Linked DNA regions of Homo sapiens. The protein of the gene in region 2 purifies or fractionates together with the protein of the main gene of each other region. This does not show direct contact. Each region holds a gene or a part of one and is shown on either strand. Other genes may lie near its edges.

Evidence for each region.
Region 1: the proteins of ASB17 (region 2) and RAB10 purify together in Homo sapiens (affinity purification with mass spectrometry, with the first as the bait; one large-scale study listed by BioGRID). This does not show direct contact.

The regions. Positions count from the first base shown.
Region 1 is NC_000002.12:26,040,584-26,044,244, reverse strand, and holds part of RAB10 (ras-related protein Rab-10), read right to left. Parts: intron 1-3,661. UniProt on the Homo sapiens protein: The small GTPases Rab are key regulators of intracellular membrane trafficking, from the formation of transport vesicles to their fusion with membranes.
Region 2 is NC_000001.11:75,930,199-75,933,959, reverse strand, and holds the start of ASB17 (ankyrin repeat and SOCS box protein 17), read left to right. Parts: upstream 1-1,555; 5' UTR 1,556-1,668; coding exon 1,669-2,069; intron 2,070-3,761. UniProt on the Homo sapiens protein: May be a substrate-recognition component of a SCF-like ECS (Elongin-Cullin-SOCS-box protein) E3 ubiquitin-protein ligase complex which mediates the ubiquitination and subsequent proteasomal degradation of target proteins.

The DNA of each region.
Region 1 (3,661 bases), on a different chromosome or scaffold from region 2:
TTTAGAGAACTGGGTCGAGTGTTAGTTTTTTGGGTTTTGTTGAGCGGTGGGGAAAATATATCTAAAACATTTACCATTTAAACCATTTTCTAAAACATAACATTAAATTTGCCATCTTAACCATTTTTAATGTGTACAGTTCAGTAGGTGTTAAGTGTATCACACCATTGTGCAACAGATCTCCAGAGCCTTTTCATTCTGCAAAACTGTAATGCGTTGTTTTATACTCATTAAACACCTTCCTATTTCCCTCTTCCCCAGCCCCTGGTAATCACCATTATTTCTGTTTCTATGAATTTGACTTTAGATAGCCTCATATTCATATAAATGAAATCACATAGTATTTGTCTTTTCATGCATTTCAAACATTTTTAAGTGTACAATTCATTGGCATTAAATTAATTCACACTGTTATACAACCATCAACACTATTCCTCTCTGGAACTTTTTCATCCTTCCAAACTAAAACTCTGTGATCATTAAGCAATAACTCCCCATTACTCTGTCCCCCAGGCCCCAGTAACCACTATTCCACTAATTTTGTCTACTATAGGTACCTCACACATTATTTGTCCTTTTGTGTCCAACTCATTTTACTTAGTAAACTATTTTCAAGGCGTATCCATGTGGTAGCATGTTAGAATTTCCCTCCCTTTTAAGGCTGAATAATATTCCATTCTATGTGTATACCACATTTTGTTTATCCATTTATCCACTGATGAACATGTGAGTTGTTTCCACCTTTCAGCTATCGTGCATAATGCTACTATGAATGCTGGTGTACAAATAGCTGTTTGAGTCTTTTTTGTTGTTGTTTGTTTTGAGACAGGGTCTTGCTCTGTCATCCAGGCTGGAGTACAGTGGCATGATCATCAGCTCACTGCAACCTCCGCTTCCCGGGTTCAAGTGATCCTCTCACCTCAGCCTCCCAAGCAGCTGGTACTACAGGCATGCGCCAACATGTACAGCTAATTTTGGGGGGTTTCTTGGTAGAGACAGGATCTCACCATGTTGCCCAGGCTGGTCTTGAACTCCTGAGCCCAAGTAATCTGGCCTCCTAAAGTGCTGGGATTTACGGGCATAAGCCACCTTGCCTGGCCCTGTTTGAATCTTTGATTTAAATTATCCTGGATATAACTCGAAGTGAGATCACTAGATCATATGGTAATTTCATTTTTAATTTTTTGAGAAACCACCCTATTGTTTCTCACTGTGGCTGCACCATTTCACATTCCCACCAGCAATGCACCAAGGTTCCAATTTCTCTACAACCTCATCACTTGCTTTTGTCGTTTGTTGTTGTTGTTATAACTATCCTAAATGGTCGCAAAGTAACATCTCACTGTGGTTTTGATTTGCATTTCCCTAATTATTAGTGATGCTGAACATCTTTCCATATGTTTATTGGGCATCTGCTTAGCTTCTTTGGAGAAATACCTACAGAGGTTTTTTTTTTTTAAATAGTAATTATGAAACAATTCACAAATTTGCGTGTCATCCTTGCGCAGGGACCATACTAATCTTCTCCATATCCTTCCAATTTTAGTATATATGCTACCGAGACAAGCACTCTGGATGGTCTTTTGGGGTTTTTTGTTTAAGACAGAATCTCACTCTGTCATCCAGGCTGGAGTGAGATGGTACAATCATAGCTCACTGCAGCTTCAAACTCCTGGGCTCAAGTGATCCTCCCATCTCAGCCTCCTGAGTAGCTGGGACTACAGGTGTACACCACCGCACCCAGCTAATTTTTTATTTAAAAGCTTTTTTTTGTAGAGATGGGGTCTCGCTAAGTTGCCCAGGCTGGTCTCGAACTCCTGAGCTCAAGCTATCCTCCTGCCTCAGCCTCCCAAAGTGTTGGAAATACAGGTGTGAGCCACAGCACCCAGCCTAATCAATCATTTCTTAAATGCAGGTTAGTGGAACCAACCTACTCTTCCAAAACTTAGCAAAATCATCCTGACAACAAAATGTATGTATTATACCTCTCTTAGGGACAAGAGCCTTTACCAACTTGATTTCTTACATGGAGCCGAGAGACTCCAATTCCCAGTGAAAAATATTCCCTGTTAAAAAATGAGTAAGCCTGTGGTGGAGAAAGGATTAATGACACCAAAAGGTAGCACATCCAGTATAGAAGCAGCCCACTAAAAGCTTGTGCTTTGGGGACAAATCCATGTAATTCCCACATCACTAATAAGTAACGCATTCCTGAGCTCATACTACCAAGATGGTTATGGTCAAATCAACCACTGAAATCTTCTCATCCAAAAGCAGTAACTCTCTTAAGCCTATTTTTCAAACAACCTTTCAATTTCTCTTTTTCTTTTCTTTTTTTTTGAGACAGAGTTTTGCTCCTGTTGCCCAGGTTGGATTACAATGGCACGATCTCGGCTCACCGCAACCTCCGCCTCCCTGGTTCAAGCGGTTCTCCTGCCTCAGCCTCTAGAGTAGCTGAGATTACAGGCATGCGCCACCACGCCCAGCTAATTTTGTATTTTTGGTAGAGACAGGGTTTCACCATGTTGGCCAGGCTGGTCTCGAACTCTGACCTTAGGTGATCTGCCCGCCTCGGTCTCCCAAAGTGCTGGGATTACAGGCGTGAGCCACCAAACCCAGCCCCAACCTTTCAATTTCTAAGAGCAGTCTTGCCCTATTAAGCCAAACAGCTAACATTCTTTTTTTTTTTTTTTTTTTTTTTGAGTCAGCGTCTCACTCTTGTCACCCAGGCTTGAGTGCAGTGGCACGAGCTCAACTCACTGCAACCTCCGCCTCCCGGGTTTAAGCAATTCTCCTGCCTCAGAGCCTCCCAAGCAGCTGGGGCAACAGGCACACACCACCATGCCTAGCTAATTTTTGTATTTTTAGTAGAGACGGGGTTTCACCATGTTGGCCAGGCTGGTCTCAAACTCCTGACCTCTGGTGATCCACCTGCATTGGCCTCCCAAAGTGCTGGGATTACAGGCATGAGCCACTGCGCCCGGCCACAGCTAATATTGGTAAGTCTGATCCCAATCTACTTCATATAATGATCAGAAAGTAGGTAAAAAGGAAAAATTTTACATAAACTACCCCCAATTCATATTAAGGGGATCCTGATTGTACCACCTGTCTGCCTACCTGCCTGCCTTCATTCATTATTTATGGTGCACCCATTAAATGCAGGTACCCTTCCAGGTGTTTAGCACACATGAGAAAAAAAAAAAAGACAAAGATTTCTGCCTTTGTGCAACTTATATTCTGGTGCCCTTGGATTCGTTTTGAGATTGGTTGAGTGTACCATACCAGTAATTTGTTTTTTGCAGCAGTCTCCAATAAATCTGACCATAAATACAATACATAATTTCTAATACGGATGTATGAGAATTGAAAATATATAGAAAAATTCAAATACAGTAGTCTTTGTGAACACCATCCTATAAATCTATAAAAATTATTTCTTCAAAAAACCATAGCCAATAAGAAACTTAAATGACTGCACCTGAAATAATGAGGGCCTGCCTTATTTTGGCAGTCAGGTCCTTCTGAACACCTGCAAGATAACTACTTCTATACAAACCTCTGGATGTTTTCTGTTTTTGTTTTATCATACACGGTCTCGCTCTGTCACCCAGGCTGGAGTGCAGTGGTGTGATCCGAGCTCACTGCACCTTTGAACTCC
Region 2 (3,761 bases):
AATATGTAGTTAGTTTAATTAGGTTGTCCAGCTGGGAAAAGACAGTTTAGAGTTTACAAAATAAAATGCAATATTAGTAGATGTATATTATAGTAAATCTAAAGTAATAATTTTTTCTTACTAAAGAGACATCATTCACATGATTTAAATAAAAATATGCCAAAGGAAAAAGAATATATTTAATTACCTTTAAAAACGCTAATACATACATCCAAGGTTGTTAAGACTGATCACTCTGTGAATAGTATAAAAAGGTGGCTGAAACATTAACTACAGAATAATGATAAAAACAACCATAACATCTTTCCCCTTTATTGTAGTGGGGCAAGGACACCATATCAAGCTTGAAGTACCTTTAATGTTCAAATTGTATACATTCTGCCTGGTTTATAGAGGAATAATTTCTGTAAAATTTAAAATTCTAAAAAAAGGTCAGATGCAGTGGCTCACGCCTGAAATCTCAACACTTTGGGAGGTCAAGGCAGGCGGATCATGAGGTCAGGAGTTCGAGGCCAGCCTGGCCAACATGGTGAAACCCTGTCTCTACTAAAATACAAAAATTATCCGGGCGTGGTGGTGTGCACCTGTAATCCCAGCTACTCAGGAGGCTGAGGCAGGAGAATTGCTTGAACCTGGGAGGTGGAGGTTGTAGTAAGCCGAGATCGCACCATTGCACTCCAGCCAAGGCAAAAGAGTAAGACACTGTCTCAACAACAAAAATCTAAAACAAAGTCTTTAAATTTTGGTTAATATTGTATGACATTCTTTCTCTTTGGGAATGAATATATTGGCAGGTTACTTAACCTATGTAAGCTTCAGTCAGGCACAGTGCCTCAAGCCTGTAATCCTAGCACTTTGGGAGGCTGAGGCAGGGAGATCACTTGAGCTCGGGAGTTCAAGACCAGCCTGGCCAACATGGCATAACTCTGTTTCTATAAAAAATACAAAAATTAGCCAGGCATGGCGGTGCATGCCTGTAGTCCCAGTTGTTTGGGAAGTTGAGGTGAGAGAAAGCTTGAGCCCAGGAGGTCAAGGCCGCAGTGAGCCATGATCGTACCACTGCACTCCAGCCTGGGTGACAGGGTGAGACCCTGTCTCAAACAACAAAAAAATTATCTGTGTAAGCCTCAATTTCCTCAACTACAAGATAGGGGAAATAATCAATGAGGATTAAGTGAGAGCATACAGTATTCATGCAGAACATGAGAACAACACTTGAATTTATTCACTCTAGCAATCATTGTCTGCTTACATAATAGCCTACAAAGGATAATCAATGTATTTATTACCATTATTTAGTCTACTGAAGAAACATGCAGAACTTGAGAAACCAGGCAGACTACCTTGAACTGAATTCTTAGAAAATTAAATATATTGTATCTTAGCTTTCACGTATGTCATTTCTGTCCAATATGTCTCTTTCAAATGTCACCAGTTACATACAATATCCCCTCTGACCTATGCTGGTGACCTCTACCTATTGTGGAGGAATCTCCACCTATTGTGATGTCATCCAGTACTTTATGGTAATATTTATTTTTTCTGGTTACAGTTTAAAGGGCACTTCTGTTTGTGGAGTAAAGCCTGCCACATTGTCAAAATATGTAACTGGAGGATTACAGTATGCTTACCTCTGATTTTATTTCTACAGTGCTGCTATAAGTAACAATGAGTAAATCTACTAAATTATGTGGTAAGACTTCTTGTCCAAGAAGCAATATATTCTGCAATCTCCTTGACAAAATTGTTAAAAGACCCTCCCTACAGTTTTTGGGTCAGTGGGGATATCACTGTTACGAACCAAGGATTTACAGATCACTGGCAAAAATTCTGAGGTATGTGGACTTGGATGGTTTTGACGCACTACTCACAGATTACATTGCATTTGTGGAAAAATCAGGATACCGTTTTGAAGTAAGTTTTAACCTCGACTTCACTGAAATATGTGTGAATACAATTCTGTACTGGGTTTTTGCCAGAAAAGGTAATCCTGACTTTGTGGAATTGCTTCTCAAGAAGACAAAAGACTATGTTCAAGACAGAAGTTGTAACCTGGCACTGATATGGAGGTAATAATTTCATATGTTTTCACTATAGAACAAGAAAATTTATCTTTACGAGAGTAGAGTGCTTCTTTTTTCTAAAACTCACATGTATAGTGGCTATATGTGAAGTAAGGAATTCTCACCTAATTGCTTGACCACGTGTTCACTCCTTCACTCTTTTATTATGTATTCCATTTTTATTTATATGTAAATTATTATGTACCAATAAATCATTAGTGATTCTGCTCTACACAGCTTACATGTTAGTGCTAAACAACATGTTTCTCTAACTAAACAAAGACACTATGTTGTGTAATACTATGATCTCCTATTTCTGCGAATCCTATGGTTTTATATTTATATATGTTTATAAGCTGACTTTCAAAGTACAATTGGGAACATGCACACATCTTCACATAGTAATACTTATTAAACACAATAGTTCCCTATTTGTGTGTTAAACATTTATAAATTAGACTCCAAATTCTCCAAATTTGAGCACAATGAAGGTCAAGTACCTGATGCTATCGATAATAGAACCAAATTTTTATAGTGTTCACATGTCAATCTACCTAATGCATACTACTGAGGATCTTATGAAAATCAAATCTCCAATGTATCCTCTTTTTAGAGTCCATAATATAGAATTTAAAGTTACCTAGTTTGCACTAACTTTAATTTATTCTTTCGTTTTAGATATTCATCTGAATAAAACATTCATGTGTTCATTCATTCAGCAAAATATTTATTAATCACATTACTATGTATGCAAGTCTGTACTAGGTGCAATATAAATGCATGTATGCAATGAAAAACAAAATGGACAAGATCAGTTAAAGACTAAACCAATTTAGATTCTGCCTAAAGCAGAGTTTTTTCTTGATTGTGCATCCTATGGTATCGGAGAACCACTGGATTTCATTACTTAATGATTACTAAAGTACATGAACTGATAGCTGTAGTTTGGAAACAACAATAAACAAAACTACCAAATGGTACTTTGTGTTTTAAGTAACCATTATATTTGTAACTACAGCAGAGATCAGCAAATCTTCTAAAGCTGACTGTCACTAGCTGGGCTAAATAGTGCCTGTCTACAGCCCTGGAAGGTCCACGGGAAAGAAAAATTGAGGCAAACAGAGGGAGAGAGAATAAATTTTTAAAAATTAAAAATGGAAGCAGAGAGGAGAAAGCTGGACAGAAAATGAAACAAAGAGAAACACAGTGGAACATGATAGGGTGCCATTAACAACTGTCTTAAGACAGGTTTAAAATTAATCAATTTCAACTTAGATGCATCCACAAGGTAAAACCCATTACAGGCCAGTTCTACTGATCGCAACATCACTTAGACCTCTCAGAATCATAGAATTTTATATTTGTATGGAGCCTGAGAATTCATTAGCAGACCTTTACCCTGGACAGCAACTGGTCGATGCTCACTGGTCTCTTCTTAAACAATTCTAGAAGTAGTGAGTTAACTATTTCCTTAGGTAAACCGTTCCTTTGCCTTGGGGTCCTTGTTTTTCCTAGTGTTATATATATATATATATTTATATTTATATTTACATATATTTATATTTATATGTAGTTATATATATACATGTTATATATAGTTATATATGTTTTATATATATAACTAAATATAAATATAACTAGTTATATAAATATATAAATATAACTAGTCATATAATAGTTATATAACTAAATAAATAC